Regions from separate parts of the Homo sapiens genome. Here region 1 is linked to region 2. The links come from fine-mapping of genetic effects on gene expression. A gene starts in region 2. The other region holds a variant in brackets. All regions are shown on one strand. Distances are between the middles of the regions. Region 1 holds the start of HNRNPH1 (heterogeneous nuclear ribonucleoprotein H1). Region 2 holds the start of RUFY1 (RUN and FYVE domain containing 1).

Region 1 (8,327 bases), 74 kb after region 2:
TTAGTCACTTTTGGAAAATTAGATAACAAAGTTCAGACTTCCTGGGTCTTTAGATAAGCTAGGAAGAGCTGCCACAAACTCCCTTAGATGACCATTTCCATGCAGTCAAATACCTAAAATTCAGAAGGGGTGAGACCTCTATTGTTTAATGCTTTATTTACTGTAACTAGGGCAATGTAAATCAAACCTTCAACATATCTGTGTCCCATAGTTTCTCTGTCTTTTTTCAGGGCCAATTTGACTTCATCTTCTGATTCAAGTTCAACAAAAGCCTCGCCACTTGGTCTGCCTTCTCTGGTGTAGATGAAACGAATACCTTGAGCCCCATTTTGAATTTTGCAGTCTGGAAAGAAAACAACCGTTAATACAGAATTTAAAACCTAAAACCACCTCTGGGTGACACAGATGAAATGTCTATTCCATGTCCCCACTACAAATTACATAACTTGTGAAGCCTATATATACTGACCACGATATTACCAACTCCTAAAACTCCAATTAAAAAAAAACAAACTCATTCCTAAGGTGATATATTTCCAACCCATCAACAACATACAATATTCAAAGCAGTTTCAGAATGAATTTATCTCTTTAGTCCTTGCTACTCATGTCTACATCACACATCTTTTATCAATTTCTCAGAAGATTATCAAGCCTGGACTGTGTGACTTTACGGCAAACATACTTCGTTGCGAGCTGTTTTGGTCTGGGGCATTTATCCGTTTTACCTTACCAGTAGCCACATTACGGTTTCTCATTCAAATTCAAATTACAAGCCCAATACTCACCTGAAAGGGGATCAGTGTTACCAAGCTAAAATGCTCCAAGTTGCACAGCTGAAGCCAAACCCAGTGTTGCCCCCTGCAAGGCGGCTTCCAGCGTACTTGGTTCTTGTTTTACAGGTCGCTTTCCGTTACCAACGCTAAATTCAGATAGTAAGTCAATACTACAAACGTCTTGCCAAAAGCTGTTAATTTCATCCAAATAGAATTTTAATCAGTCTAATTTCTTTTTCCCAGTCTAATAATAGGAACAAGGACATTCTGATAGAAAATATTCAGGAAACCTATGTACTGCAAAAACACTTCCCTGGGCTTCAGTGTCTTCAACTGTATAGTGAGCCAGATTAAGAACTAGATAAGAAAACACTCTTCAATTATCAAATCTTGATTAGGAAAACTGAAATTAAGACGTGACATTTTAACTTTCCGAAGAATGCTCCTTTTTAAGAAAACACCAAAACTGGAAACAAGAGGTTACACTTCAAGATATTGCAAAACATTACTATTATTTGTCTAATCACTCGGCCATTTTCTCAAGATTGAGGAGGAAATCCCACCTATGCCAATTTATCCTTTCGAAAAAAGACACCCGGGCCAGGCGCGGTGGCTCACGCCTGTAATCCCAGCATTTTGGGAAACCGAGGTGGGCGGATCACTTGAGGTCAGATGTTCGAGACCAGCCTGGCCAAAATAGTGAAACCCCGTCTCTACTAAAAATACAAAAATTAGCCGGGCGTGGCGGTGCGCGCCTCTAGTCCCAGACACTCGGGAGACTGAGGCAGGAGAATCGCTTGAACCCAGGAGGCGGAGGTTGCAGTGAGCCGAGAACGCGCCACTGCACTCCAGCTTGGGTGACAGAGACTCCAACTCAAAAGAAAAAGAAAAAAAGACACCCATAAAAGAAAAGCTGGTGTTCAAAGATAGGTAAAGAAAACAAAGTCTGCCAAACCTGCCGCACTCCCCCAAGGGCCAGGAGGACGGGCGGGGCTTTCGAAATTTCCATTGCGTAACAGCGGGCCGCCGGGCGCGAGCAGCACAGCGGTGAGTGTAGTCGCCCGCGCCTCGCCAGGGGGCGCCCCGGGTCCCACCCGGCCCGGCCCGGCCCGGCCCGCCCCGCCCCGCCCCGCCCCAGCCCGGCCGCCCGCCAGCCCGCCCGCCCCGGCCTCGAACTCGAACTCCCGCGTCCTAGTTCTAACTCACCAGAAAAAAACCTCTGCACTTCATCGGCCGAGCAAGACCAGGGCAAGCCCCGGACCTTCACCACGAATCCCTCTCCACCTTCCGTGCCCAACATCATCGTCTCTTACGCGGTCCGGCGTCGAAACAAACTGCAAAGCGGGGAGGACCAGAACTGAGAGCGCCAATTAAGCTGTCCTTCGCCTCCGAGGCGCGCCCGGGCCCGCACCGCCCCCCCACGGAGCAAAAACCGGGCGGATGCACCCACCCCGGCGACTCCAACACCTCCTCGTCCGGCGACCGGACCCCCAAAGCTGTCCTGAGCAACAGCTGTCGGCGCCCCGAACCGTGGGGGCCCGGGCCGAGAGCCAGCGTAGAGGAAAGGAAATGGCGGCGGCCGCTTCCGCTCCGCCTCCTCCGACTTCTCACACAATAGAGTCGGCGCGGCCTGCAGGCCTCAGCGGCGGTGCCGAGATTCAGCGAACCACTCGCGGCTCTCGACGGCAGCCTGCAGCTCGCCAAGGTCCCCGTGGCCCTCCCAGAGATATGGGGACAAACAATCCTCGCAAAAACGGTACCCACCGTGGTCGCTGAACTGCAAGCGAGGACCCACCGCGACTCACCTAGACACGCGACTTCTGCGTGGCTAAGACGAAATGGCCAGCGGGCGCCTGCGCAACCTAAATAAGGTCCCTTGTGCGAGTTCTGCGCACGCGCAGCCAGCTGCCCGCACCGCCCCGTTGCGTCACAAAGAGCTCTGGCGCATGCGTAATTTCAAGAGCCAGCCCACCTCCCGCCGGCGGATTATTACACGCTTGGGTTTTGGGCTCAGCACCCCCACCCATAAACCCGCCGGGCTTTTTGTTGCGCCTGCGCCTTCCCGCGAATATTGAACTTCGGAGTCCTAGCGGTTTATAATTATTTCATGCGCATGCGTCTTCCTTGAAACCGTTCTCTAGCCTTACCCGCCAGCGTGGGGGAGGGGAATGGCGGCCGCCTGTTCCCTATGGGACTGTATAGGAGTCCCGAGCTCTGGGTTGTGATGAGGTGGGCGTCTTTCTACCCCTTGCCCCCAGGCTCTTACCGGCGCGCTCCTGGCCGACCTGAAAGGAGGGGCGCGGCCTTCAGGCGTTCCCACTCCCCGCGCCGCCTGTCTTCCCTTTATCCCCAAACCGGCCGAAGCTGGTCAGCTGCAGATTGTCGAACGTCCTGGGAGCTGCGGGGCTGCGGACGTCCCGCGCCCGAAGCCACCCGTATGGT[G/A]CCTGGGGCACGTCCCAGCCCTGTGTGCCTCCACTTCCCCTTACCTGCCGTCGTCGGGCCTAGGGCCCCGGTCGGCGCGAGGTTTCCGTGCCTGTGGCTCGCGCCTGTACCCAGCTTTTGCCTAACGAATTCGCACCCTGTGTACCCCTTGACCCGCCTAACGGTCGGCAGGCCTTGACTGCCCTGGGGCCCTGGCACGAGGAGGGATCGCGAGCGCGGGCTCCACGGGTGCGCGCCGGCCTCTGCGCTCGGTAGGTTACCGCTGCATCTCCCAGAGCAGAATTGGTAAGAGTGCGTCCATTCACCAGGCGTAGACGCTGCATTCGAGGAGGCCCCCGGGTCACCCCATGTGCACACATGCTGCGAGATGACTAATGTTCGTGGTTTCTAGCAGCACTGCCCAAAACCTAAGATGCCGTAGCCTCCCAGGCCTCCCCATGTCTGATTTGGCTGCCTTCCTCACCCCAGCTTTAGTGGACACAGACAATACACAAATTAACAATAAGGTAGTGCTGGACCCTGCCGCAGAGCTACCTTAGCTAGTGCAAGCCTGAGTGCCACCCTGGGAAGATGCGGACAAAGCATGTTTCCAACCCCAGTGCCACAGAGTCCGAATCCAGTTTTGACAGGTTTGAGAAAAAGTAGAGAGGACATCAAAAGAAAGACAGGAGCCCAGAGCTAAGCAGGGCCTGATCTTCAAAGGCCACTTAGGCCTTGGCAAGGGTGTTATCTCCGAGAGAAGGCTTTGGCAGGTGATCAGCAGGGGAGCCGTAAACCCTGTGTAAAGGAAAACTCTTGCTGGATGTGAGGGGGATGCAGATGGAGCAGGCAGGGTGAATGACGGTACATACCAGGCCCTCTACTACAAACTGAACTAGAAGCACACACCTGTGGTACCATTTCAGAAGGCACTTTGGCTGAGGTAATCAAGAAGAGAGTCCGGCCAGGTGCGGTGGCTCACTCGTGTAATACCAGCATTTTGGGAGGCCGAGGCAGGCAGATCACTTGAGATCAGGAGTTTCAGACCAGCTTGGCCAACATGGTGAAACCCCATCTCTACTAAAGATACAAAAATTATCTATGCATGCACACGCCTGTAATCCCAGCTACTCTGGAGGCTGAGGCAGGAGAATCACCTGAACCCAGGAGGCAGAGGAAGCAGTGAGCTGAGATCACACCACTGCCCTCCAGCCTGGGCTACAAAGACTCCCTCTCAAAAAAAAAAAAAAAAAAAAATTAGCCAGGCATGGTGATGCATGCCTGTAATCCCAACCACTTGGCAAGACTGAGGCAGGAGAATCACTTAAACCCAGGAGGCAGCAGTTGCAGTCAGCTGAGATCACGCCATTGCACTCCAGCCTGGGCAATAAGAGCAAAACTCCGTCTCAAAAAAAAAAAAAAAAAGAATAGTAGTAAGGTAGAATACATTTCATACACTTATAGCCAATTCTCTTATATATAAATTGTCCAACTTATATTAAAACAAGGTTTTTAAATTTTTATTTTTTATTTGTTTGTTTGAGACACAGCCCGTCACCCAGGCTGGAGTGCAGTGGTGCAAACATGGCTCACCACAGCCTCTACCTTCTGGGCTCAAACAATCCTCCTGCCTCAGCCTCCTGAGTAGGTAGGACCACAGGCATGTGCCACCTTGCTCAGATTATTTATTTATTTATTTATTTATTTATTTATTTTTTGTAGCAATGGGGTCTCATTTTGTTGCCCAGGCTGGTCTTGAATTCTTGGGCTCAAGGAATCATTCCACCTCAGCCTCGCAGAGAAAGTGCTGGGATTACAGGTGTGAGCCACCATGGCTGGCAATGAAAGGTTTTTTTGTTTGGTTTTGTTTTTGAGACAGTCTAACTCTGTCACCCAGGCTGGAGTACAGTGGTGCAATCTTGGCTCACTGCAACCTCTGCCTCCTAGGTTCAAGCAATTCTCATGCCTTAGCCTCCCAAGTAGAGGGATTACAGGTGTGTGCCACCACACCTGGCTACTTTTTTTTAAGTTTTAGTTGAGATGGGGTTTTGCCATGTTGGCCAGGCTGGTCTGGAACTCCTGACCTCAAGTGATCTGCCTGCCTCGGCCTCCCAAAGTACTGAGATTACAAGCATGAGCCACCATGCTCGGCCAAAGGTTTTTTTAAATAAAAAGTTAATCATCAGCCCACGCGTGGGGCTCATGCCTGTAATCCCAGCACTTTGGGAGGCCGAGGCAGGTGGATCAAGAGTTCAGGAGTTAGAGACCAGCCTGACCAACATGGTGAAACCCCGTCTCTACTAAAAATACAAAAAGTAGCCGGGCATGGTGTCGCGTGCCTGTAATCCCAGCTACTCAGGAGGCTGAGGCAGGAGAATCACTTGAACCTGGGAGGTGGAGGTTGCAGTGAGCAGAGATTGCACCACTGCACTCCTGCCTGGGCAACAGAGCAGGACTCTGTCTTTAAAAAAAAAAAAAAAAATTCATCATCTTGCCTCAGTGGTCTTTATGTCTTGGTATACTTCTTTTTTTTTTTTTTTTTGAGACGGAGTCTCGCTCTGTCGCCCAGGCTGGAGTACAATGGCGCGATCTCCGCTCACTGCAAGCTCCGCCTCCCAGGTTCACACCATTCTCCTGCCTCAGCCTCCCGAGTAGAGTAGCTGGGACGACAGGCGCCCGCCACCACGCCCAGCTAATTTTCTTGTATTTTTACTAGAGACGGGGTTTCACCGTGTTAGCCAGGATGGTCTCGATCTCCTAACCTCATGATCCGCCCACCTCGGGCTCCCAAAGTGCTGGGATTATAGGTGTGAGCCACTGCGCCCGGCTAATGTCTTCGTATACTTCTTACAGTTTACAGAGCTCTTTATTAAGGCTGTTAGCCCTTAGGATAGTTGCCCCAGACATTCTTCTCAGTTTGCTTACCTTTTAATTATTTTTGTGGTTTTGTGGTGGTATTTTTTGTTTGTTTTACAGACAATGTCTTGTTCCGTGCAGTGACACAATCATAACTCACTGCAGCCTTGAACTCCTGGGCTCAAGCCATCCTCCAAGCTCAGCCTCCTGAGTAGCTGGGACTAAAGGCACTTTCAACCAGGCCCGACTAATTTTTTTTTTTTTTGTAGTGATGGGGGTCTCACTATGTTGCCCAGGCTAGTCTTGAATTCCTGGCGTCAAGCAATTCTCCCACCTTGGCCTCTCAAAGCCCTGGGATTATTCTACATGTGAGCCATGATGCTCGGCCCTGATTTATGCCTTTTTTTTTTTTAAGACAGGGTCTCACTTCGTCACTCAGGTTGGAGTGCAGGTATGTGATCTCGGCTCACTGCAACCTCCACCTCCCGGGTTCAAGCAATTCTTGTGCCTCAATCTCCCAAATTGCTGGGATATGCCAGGTGCAATGGCTCACACTTGTAATCCCAGCACTTTGGGAGGCTGAGGTGGGTGGATAACTTGATGTCAGGAGTTTCAGACATGTTGGCCAACATGGTGAAACCCTGTCTCTACCAAAAATACAAAAATTAGCCGGGCATGGTGGTGGGCGCCTGTAATCCCAGCTACTTGGGAGGCTGAGGCAGGAGAATCACTTGAACCCAGGATGTGGAGGTTGCAGTGAGCAGAGATCCTGCCACTGTACTCCAGCCTGGGCAACAGAGGGAGATTCCATTGCAAAAAAAAAAAAAGGAAAAAAATACCAAATAGCTGTGATTACAGGCATGCACCATCACACCCGGCTAATTTTTGTATTTTTAGTAGAGATGGGGTTTCACCATGTTGGCCAGGTTGATCTGGAACTCCGAACCTCAAGTGATCCATCCACCTTAGCCTCCCAAAGTGCTGTGATTACAGGTGTGAGCCACTGCACCCGGCCTATGATTGCTTTTTAATATTTGGACATATAGAAGTTTTAAATTTCTTGATGTCAAAGCCATGGATATGTTCCTTTGAGGTTTGTCTTTAAGTTTAGAAAGCCCTTTCCCATCCAGAGATTGAGCACATATTTGTTATCTTTAGTATCATTTGTAAGACACATTTTGTACAGCTTAGCCTCAATAAGATAGGAATGTGTTTTATTTATTTTCTTCTGCTTTTTTAAAAATTTGTATTTATTTATTTATTTTAGATGGAGTCTTGCTCTGTCACCCAGGCTGGAATGCAATGGCATGATCTCGGCTTACTGCAACCTCCACCTCCCAGATTCAAGCGATTCTCCTACCTCAGCCTCCAGAGTAGCTGGGTTTACAGGTGCCTGCCACCACACCCAGCTAATTTTTGTGTTTTTAGTAGAGACCGGGTTTTGCCATGTTGACCTCAGGTGATCCACCCACCTCAGCCTCCCAAATTGCTGGGATTACACGCATGAGCCACCGCACCTGGCCAGGAATGTGTTTTAAAACCAATGATATCAGCTGGGCATGGTGGCTCACCCTGTACTCCTAGCTCTCTGGGAGGCCATGGTGGGCTGATCACTTGAAGTCAAGAGTTCCAGACTAACCTGGCCAACACGGTGAAACCCCGTCTCTACTACATTATCACATCTCATCCTTTTGGCAAAGATCAAGTGTAGGAAAAAAGATAAATTAACCGGGTGTGGTGGCATACGTCTGTAATCCCAGCTACACAGGAGTGTGAGGTGGGAGGATGGCTTGAACCCCAGAGACAGAGGTTGCAGTGAGCCAAGATCACACCACTGCACTCCAGCCTAGGTGACAGAGCGAGACTGTGCCTCAAAGAAAAGAAAATAAATGCAATCATAAATAACCCGGCTGGGCGCGGCGGCTCACGCCTGTAATCCCAGCACTTTGGGAGGCCGAGGTGGGCAGATCACAAGGTCAGCAGATCGAGACCATCCTGGATAACACAGTGAAACCCCGTCTCTACTAAAAATACAAAAAATTAGCCGGGCGTGGTGGCGGGCGCCTGTAGTCCCAGCTACACGGGAGGCTGAGGCAGGAGAATGGCTCGAACCCGGGAGGCGGAGCTTGCAGTGAGCCGAGATCGCGCCATTGCACTCCAGCCTGGGTGACAGAGCGAGACTCCGTCTCAAAAAAAAAAAAAGTAATAATAATGATGATATGTCGCCCAGGCTGGAGTGCAGTGGCATGATCTTGGCTCACTGCAACCTCCCCC
Region 2 (8,327 bases):
ATTCACAACTTGGCTAACTGTGTGCAAGAGGCCAAGCTTTTGGCCCATCACGGCTTTTGACGTGCCTACCTCATTAAGCTTAATCATTTCTAGCTTTTGATATAAAGAGAGAGACATGCAACTCTTCCTTTTACCTGAACACTCAGAGGCCATTGTACGGTTATTAATTGGCCTAATTTCTTTTCCTTTTTCTTTTCTTTTTTTTGGTTGGAGATGGAGTTTCACTCTATCGCCCAGGCTGGAGTGCAGTGATGCAATCTTAGCTCACTGCAACCTCCGCCTCCCAGGTTCAAGCAATTCTCGTGCCTCAGCCTCCCCAGTAGCTGGTATTACAGGTGCCTGCCACCACACCCAGCTAATTTTGTATTTTTAGTAGAGACAGGGTTTCACCATGTTGGCCTGGAACTCCTGATCGCAAGTGATCTGCCCACCTTAGACTCCCAAAGTGCAGGGATTACAGGTTTGAGCCACGGCCTAATTGGCCTAATTTCAATATTGTGTCTCAGGGCACAGGGAGGCCCGAGGAGAGGGTAAGGGAGAAGGAAACACGTGGTTGGTGGAGCAGTAAGAACACATACAACATTTATCAATTAAGTTTACCATCTTATATGGGTGCAGTTTGTGGTGCCCCAAAACAATTAATAATAGTAACACCAAAGATCACAGATCACAAATCATATAACAGATGTAAGGGTAGTTTAAAAGTTTAGAATATTTTGAGAATTACGAAAATGTGAAACAGAGGCACAAAATAAGCACGTGCTGTTGGGTTGCCAACAGCAACTTTTTCTTTTTTTGAGACGCAGTTTTTTTTGCACTTGTCGCCCAGGCTGGAGTGCAGTGGTTCGATCTCGGCTCACTGCAACCTCTGCCTCCCAGGTTCAAGCGATTCTCCTGCCTCAGCCTCCAGAGTAGCTGGGATTATAGGCTCCCACCACCACGCCTGGCTAATTTTTGTGTTTTTAGTAGAGACGGGGTTTCGCCATGTCGGCCACGCTGGTCACGAACTCCTGATCTCAGGTGATCCACCCACCTGTGCCTCCCAGAGTGCTGGGATTACAGGCGTGAGCCACCGTGCCCGGCTGCCAAAAACTTTAATTTGTTAAAAAAGCAATAAAGCGAAGCACTATAAAATGAGATATATTTCAATATGTAAACGAGGCACAACTACCACTGAAATAACATAGACATTTGCACGTGTAATTCTGAACAAATCAATTTAGCTACGTTCCAGGAAAATTTAGGGTACACTTATGGTAGTCATTACACTGCTCACAAAGATTCCCAGTTGTGGTTTTCCCAGACAGAAATAGGTCTGAACTTCCCAACTCCCTAGAAATTAAACGTGGCCATGTGATTTGCTTTCACCAATGAAATGTGCATAAGTGACCTTTGTCATGCAGGACTGGAGCATGTAATATTTATGCAAAACTCCCAACAGGCTGGGTCCTGAGAGACTACAATGAGTTGGGCAGAGTACTCACCCCATCTACATTGACATGTAGCATGATGAGAAACCAGCTTTTAGGTTAAGCCATTGAGATTTGGGGGTTGTTACTGAAGAATAACCTTGCCTGATAAATGTTGAAACTGTTCCCCCAAAAAAGAGTTAATGTTTTTATACAAAATGGAATTCGGTTCCACGCCCTGATCATTATAAACAAACTTTTCACCTACATAAATGTCCAGTAGCATTGGAAAGTCATGAAGGATTCGGGACAATGCTGTTATTCTAGACTATCTTCATCCCTGTCTATGCATCCAGTAAAGACTAGTAGGGCCGGGCTCAGTGGCTCACGCCTGTAATCTCAACACTTTGAGAGGCCGAGGCGGGGGAATCACGAGGTCGAGAGATCGAGACTATCCTGGCGAACATGGTGAAACCCCGTCTCTACTAAAAGTACAAAAATTAGCCAAGTGTGGCGCCACGCCCCTGCAGTCCCAGCTACTTGGGAGGCTGAGGCAGGAAAATCGCTTGAACCCGGTAGGCAGAGGTTACAGTGAGCCGAGATTGCGCCACTGCACTCCAGCTTGGTGACAGAGCAGGACTTGGCCTCAAAAACAAACAAACAAACAAGACCAGGCCGGGCGTGGTGGCTCACGCCTCTAATCCCAGCACTTTGGGAGGCCGAGGCTGGCGGATCACGAGGTCAGGAGATCAAGACCATCCTGGCTAACACGGTGAAACCCCGTTTCTACTAAAAATACAAAAAAAAAAAAAAATTAGCCGGGCGTGGTGGCGGGCACCTGTAGTCCCAGCTACTCGGGAGGCTGAGGCAGGAGAATGGCGTGAACCCGGGAGGTGGAGCTTGCAGTGAACCGAGATCGCGCCACTGCACTCCAGCCTGGGCGACTGAGCGAGACTCCGTACGAAAACAAACAAACAAAAAAGACTGGTAGTATGCCCTCAGTCATTACACAACTCAAACACCAACTCCACAAATTCCCAAAACACTCCTAGATGAAGTGGTATCCCTTCACTGAGAACTGGCCTTTCAGGGACCAGACATATCATGCAACCTAGTGAAGTGGGCTGGACCAAGACAGGTCCAGGGAGCAGCTGGGCGTCTAAAGGGGCAGCACAGTTTATTCCCAACAGTTTGTTGCCATCTGGGAATATGCCATGAGTTACCAAATATTCCAGTGATTCCAGAGAAAGCTAAAATCCAGATTCTTATGTGAAATCTTTTGATTTCTAAATATTGGCAACAAGTTTTAAGATTTGTAAACATTCTGGGAATCAAAACAGCTCTGCTGGTTTGGTGTGGCTCATGTTGCCTCACTTTGCAAAGTGTTAAGTGCTAGTAAATTTTAGTGTTTTTTCTGAGACAGGGTCTCACTTTGTCGCCCAGCCTGGAGTGCAGTGGCCATGATCTCCGCTCACTGTGGGATCGACCTCCCGGGCTCAAGCGATCCTCCCACTCTCAGCCCCCCAAGGAGCTAGGAGTAGAGCTGTCCCGCCACGACATCTGGCTGGTTTTTTGTTGTTGTTGTTGTTGTTGTTTTGGTATTTTAGTAGAGACGGGGTTTCGTCCTACTAAAGGCCCGCCTGGGCCTTCCGAAGTGCTGGGATTACAGGCGTGAGCCACCGCGCCCGGCCAAAATTTTCCTTTGTACTTACTCAAATTCCTTTCTTTTCCAAGTGAAGAAACAGACTGAGTGTATAGTGACTTACCCAGGCCACACAGTTGGATACCAGAGATAGTAGTCACAATCGCTAACATCTGCCATGTGGTCCTTACTGCAAATCTTATTTAATAATGAGGTCGGTTTTTGTTATCCCACTTAACTAATCAATAGGAGAAGCCACCTCTGATTTCCAGTCCACTATCGTGCACTCTTTCTTGCCAAGCCGTCATAGTCATTAGATTAAAAAAAAAAAAAAATTCCTGCTTTCCTGCCTCGCCTGTGCGTTTCCTTAGTCGCCCTTTCGGGGCTTGTTCTAATGAGTGCTACAGAAAAATGACGAAGTGGAAAATATAGACCATGAAATGAAAATTTAAAAGAGGAAATGGTGTCACAAAGACAACGACGGCCAGGGAACCCCGTGAAGCGCCGGGCAGGGTGCACAACTGTCCTCGGAGAAAGTTCAAGAGGAACTTCCCCGCGAACAGGTCCTGCCGGCGGCCGGGAATACGCACACTTTTTATGTTATGACTTGGACTTTCCCGAACCTTTCGAAACAGAGGGAAGGCGAGGCGGTGAAGAGGGAGAAAAATCTCCCCCACCTAAGGCAAAGGCGATGCCCGCCCGCCCCCACCCCGCGCCCGCCCGCCCGCTGGGTCACATGACACGGCCAAGATGGCCGACCGGGAAGGCGGCTGCGCTGCTGGGCGGGGGCGGGAGCTGGAGCCGGAGCTGGAGCCGGGGCCGGGGCCCGGGTCAGCGCTTGAGCCGGGAGAAGAGTTTGAGATCGTGGACCGAAGCCAGCTGCCCGGCCCAGGCGACCTGCGGAGCGCAACGAGGCCGCGGGCGGCCGAGGGCTGGTCGGCGCCCATCCTGACCCTGGCACGCAGGGCCACCGGGAACCTGTCGGCGAGCTGCGGGAGCGCGCTGCGCGCGGCCGCGGGGCTGGGCGGCGGGGACAGCGGGGACGGCACGGCGCGCGCAGGTAGGCTCGGGCCGGGTCTGTCCCGCGGCGGACTCGCGTGTCCCCGCTGGCCGCCGGCGCGGGCGCGGTGGGGGCCGGGCTGGGAGGGCACTGGCCGTTCCGGGAGGTTACGCGAGCTGTTGGCGGGCGGGCGGCGCCTGGCTGCGCCTGGGTCTTTACTCCGGCGGCCCAGCCGAGACCGCCCCCCGCAGCCCCGCGTGCCTGAGCGCGCTCCCGCACCCGCGCCTCTATGCTCTCCCACTAACTAGGTGAAGGACGTGTGCGCGTCCGGGCTTCGGAACTCTGTAGTAACTCCACACACGAAACGGAGCCAGCACTGTTCTGCTTTTCAGCCGTTCAGTGCGGGAGTGGAGCGCCGGCGGGTGTTGGGAGGGCGTGGGCCCTGCGCGCAGCGGACCAGCGGCGCCTCCGCTCACCTCTGCCTGTGAGATGGGGATTTTAAAGTCACCCGATGATCTCTTAAAGACCTTTTCAGCCCTTGTAATGAACAGAGTGCCAGCATATCAGTGATAGTAAGAGTTAAGTAACTTAGCCCTCTAACGCCAGACATCCAGAGCTGTGCTATCCAATACAACAGCACGCATATGTTTTTGTGTGTGTGTTTTTGTTTTTATTTATTTTTATTTTTTTGAGACCGGGTCTTGCTCTGTCGCCCAGGCTGGAGTGCAGTGGTGCGATCTCGGCTCACTGCACCCTCTGCCTCCCGGGTTCAAGCGATCCTCCCTCCCGCCTCAGCCTCCCGAGTAGCTGGGATTACAGGTGCCCACCACCACGCTCGGCTAAGTTCCCCGCCCCCACCCCCCTCCCATATTTTTAGTAGAAACGGGGTTTCACCATCTTGGCCAGGCTGGTCTTGAACTCCTGACCTTGTGATACACCTGCCTCGGCCTCGTAAAGTACTGGGACTACAGGCTTGAGCCACCGCGCCCGGCCGGATTCCTCAATTTCTAACTGAATCAATTGAAATTCAGTACTTTTAAATTGAATTAAAAATTGAGTTCCTCGGCCGGGAGCGGTGGCTCACGCCTGTAATCCCAGCACTTTGGGAGGCCGAAGCGGGTGGATCACGAGGTCAAGAGATCGAGACCATCCTGGCCAACATGGTGAAACCCCGTCTCTACTAAAAATACAAAAAATTAGCTGGGTGTGTTGGCATGCACCTGTAGTCCCAGCTACTCAGGAGGCTGAGGCAGGAGAATCGCTTGAACCTGGGAGGCAGAGGTTGCAGTGAGCCGAGATCGCGCCACTGCACTCCAGCCTGGGTGACAGAGCGAGACTCTGTCTCAAAAAAAAAAAAAAAAAAAAAAACTTGTTCCTCGATTACAGCGGCCACATTTTAAATGCTCAGTAGCCTGTGTGTGGCCAGTGGCTACTGTATGAGATAGCACATAATAGAACATTGCCAACTTCATAGAAAATGCTGGGACAGAGCTGAGGAAAGGTTGTGGTGCCTTCCAAGGAGCATCATAGCACACACTCGAGGCTTCCTGATTCCTCCCCATCCACTGGTACCTTTGCTGTAGATGCACTGACCCCAGGTAGTGAATTGTGAGATTTTCAGTGGTCAAGAATAATTACTGAGTAAAGTTGAAAGGCTGACTCGTTTTGAGATCCTGGCAGTGGAAAATAGCATTAGAGGATGATGAGAGCCTGGGCAGGCCGGGAATCTACTGCCCTCTAGCTTGACACCTTTTCCCGAGACTTTTCCACACATCAGTGGATGCTGAGTTGCATACTCATTGACAGTCAGTACTGAAAGTCAAGGCATGGCGTCTCCTGGAGGCCTCTTAGATATTTCGTGGCAGGAGTAAGCAAATAATAAAAGTTCTTCCCTGCTAGAATTTCTTTCCTTTAATGCAGAATCAAGGAAAAAATTAAAAAGATAAAATGAAATGTGTCAGTACCTGGCACAGAATAATAAGTGTTTGCTGAACAAATGCATATTTGAAAAATACCTGTGTTCCATCTATGGAAGTGATAGAAACAATAGCCAACACTTATATTGTCCTTCAAAGGTGCCAGGCATTAGTCTTAAACCTGTACAAGTATTCATTCATTCCTCACAACAACCCTATGTGATAGCAGGACTAGCTTCATGGGTGGACAGTCAATGCAGGCTTTGATCACTCTGGTGGAAAGGGCCAGGCACTCAGAAGTATCCCATGCTTGAAATTCTTAATTTTATCTTTGAATTTGTGTTTTTTAAGTGAAGTCCAATGGGACAGGTTCTCAGTTGCCCTGGCCCACTCGAGCTGCCCTGGGGCTTCTCCCTACCCTCCCTGATCCCACTCTTGCCCAGGCAGCGTTGGGATTGCACCCTCCGAATCTCAGGGCAGGGTGGCTGGTACCACAGCACATTAGGCAGGCAAGTGGGCAGGGGCCTCTCACCTGTCCCATCCCTGCAGGGAAGTTGCAATCCATTAGGGCTGTAGTAAGGGGGAGTCTGACTTCTGTGCTCTGCTCCAGGCCGGGAATTTTGCACTGGGCCTTGTAAATCATGTAGATGGCACAGGGTGATGAGTACCATTATTATCCCTATTTTATAAAGAGAGTATTAAAGAGAAGTAACTTCACCAACTGCAAAATGTCTATATATATATCCCATATGGATTTAAAAAACTAGGCCGGGCATGGTGGCTCACACCTGTAATCCCAGCATTTTGGGAGGCCGAGGCAGGCAGATCACCTGAGGTCAGGAGTTCGAGACCAACCTGGCCAACATGGTGAAACCCTATCTCTACTAAAAAAAAAAGTACAAAAATTAGCCGGGCTTGGTGGTACGCACCTGTAATCCCAGCTACTCAGGAGGCTGAGGCAGGAGAATTGCTTGAACATAAGAGGCGGAGTTTGCAGTGAGCCGAGACCATTCCACTGCAGTCCAGCCTGGGCAACAGAACGAGACTATCTCAAAAAATAATAATTAACTCAATTTAAGGAAAGTATTAATAACTACCACTCAATCTAGCAAAATGGTGACCATGGCTTACAAAGAGATGAAATTTGGGGAACTGCTGGGTAGAGCCATGAGGCTGGTCCCAAAGGTCACCGGGATTTGAAGCCATCAGGTAGGACAGGAGCAGAGGTGGGAAAGGAAATGGGCCAAGGGCGGCTCGCTCTGCAGCGACACAAGAAAAACAGGATGGGAGAAAGACAGTGACACCACTTCAGCCAGGGCCAGGCCCAAGGCTGACTCATTCTCTTTCCCCACTGATCTGCCTACACAAGCAATGAGGACAGGCAGGACTTTCAGAGGGAGCAGTTTAGGAGCAGAGATTGAATGTGAGCAGCACTCTTGCTGGATGATATTTTTTCAATGGTAGAAGCTAAAGGAAATGCTGCGGAATATTTTGAATACTTGTTTTAAAATGTTGTCCCGGTCGGGTGCAGTGGCTCATGCCTGTAATCCCAGCACTTTGGAAGACCGAGGTGGGTGAATCACCTGATGTTGGGAGTTTGAGACCAGCCTGACCAACATGGAGAAACCCCGTCTCTACTAAAAATACAAAATTAGCCAGGCATGGTGGCGTAGGCGTGTAATCCCAGCTATTCAGGAGGCTGAGGCAGGAGAATCTCTTGAACCTGGGGGGTGGAGGTTGCTGTGAGCCAAGATCGCCGCATTGCACTTCAGCTAGGGCAACAAGAGCAAAACTTTGTCTCAAAAAAAAAAAGAAAAGAAAAGTTTTCCCATGTGGGGTCTGGTATGTGATTGTATTGTCCATAGGTGTCCTGTTTGGTTTTGGGGGATTTTTTTTTAAGGTAATAAGCGAACATGATTTTTAAAAATCAAACCATACAAAAGAACATTCGGACAGGCATGGTGGCTCATGCCTGTAATCCCAGCACTTTGGGAGGCCGAGGCGGGCGGATCATTTGAGGTCAGGAGTTTGAGACCAGCCTGGCCAACATGGTGAAACCCCGTCTCCACTAAAAGTACAAAAATTAGATGGGCGTGGTGGCGCACGCCTGTAATCCCAGCTGCTCGGGAGGCTGAGGCAGGAAAATTGCTTGAAACCAGGAGGCAGAAGTTGCAGTGAGCCAAGATCACGCCACTGCACTCCAGCCTGGGTGACGAGCAAAATTCTGTCTCAAAAAAAAAAAAGGACAAATACTAAATCCTCCTTCCCAGAAATTTTCCCCAGTACTATTGTATCTTTGAGAGTTTCCGCACATAGCACATGTGCTTTCCTCTCTCAACACTGGCTGTTTTCACGCAAGC

What was found. PIP is the estimated chance that this variant, and not a neighbour inherited with it, causes the effect.
Region 1: its variant is fine-mapped to the expression of RUFY1 in tibial nerve (GTEx, PIP above 0.99).

What each region holds. Positions count from the first base shown.
Region 1 is chr5:179,621,055-179,629,381 of GRCh38, forward strand. It overlaps HNRNPH1 (heterogeneous nuclear ribonucleoprotein H1), which reads right to left and starts at 2,617. Exons shown (of 14, transcript NM_001257293.2): 1 at 2,541-2,617; 2 at 1,983-2,110; 3 at 188-343. The coding sequence starts at 2,079. All of the region lies in intron 4 of LOC128966623 (a long non-coding RNA gene), which reads left to right. RefSeq lists enhancers at 2,389-2,558, 2,614-2,908, 2,658-3,443, 3,444-4,228. The variant G/A (reference allele first, on the strand shown) is at 3,219.
Region 2 is chr5:179,546,769-179,555,095 of GRCh38, forward strand. It overlaps RUFY1 (RUN and FYVE domain containing 1), which reads left to right and starts at 3,786. Exons shown (of 18, transcript NM_025158.5): 1 at 3,786-4,111. The coding sequence starts at 3,802. The region is part of intron 4 of LOC128966623 (a long non-coding RNA gene); the gene reads left to right. It overlaps LOC105377762 (a long non-coding RNA gene), which reads right to left and starts at 3,736. Exons shown (of 4, transcript XR_941315.4): 1 at 3,176-3,736. RefSeq lists a silencer at 3,711-4,420 and an enhancer at 7,666-8,166.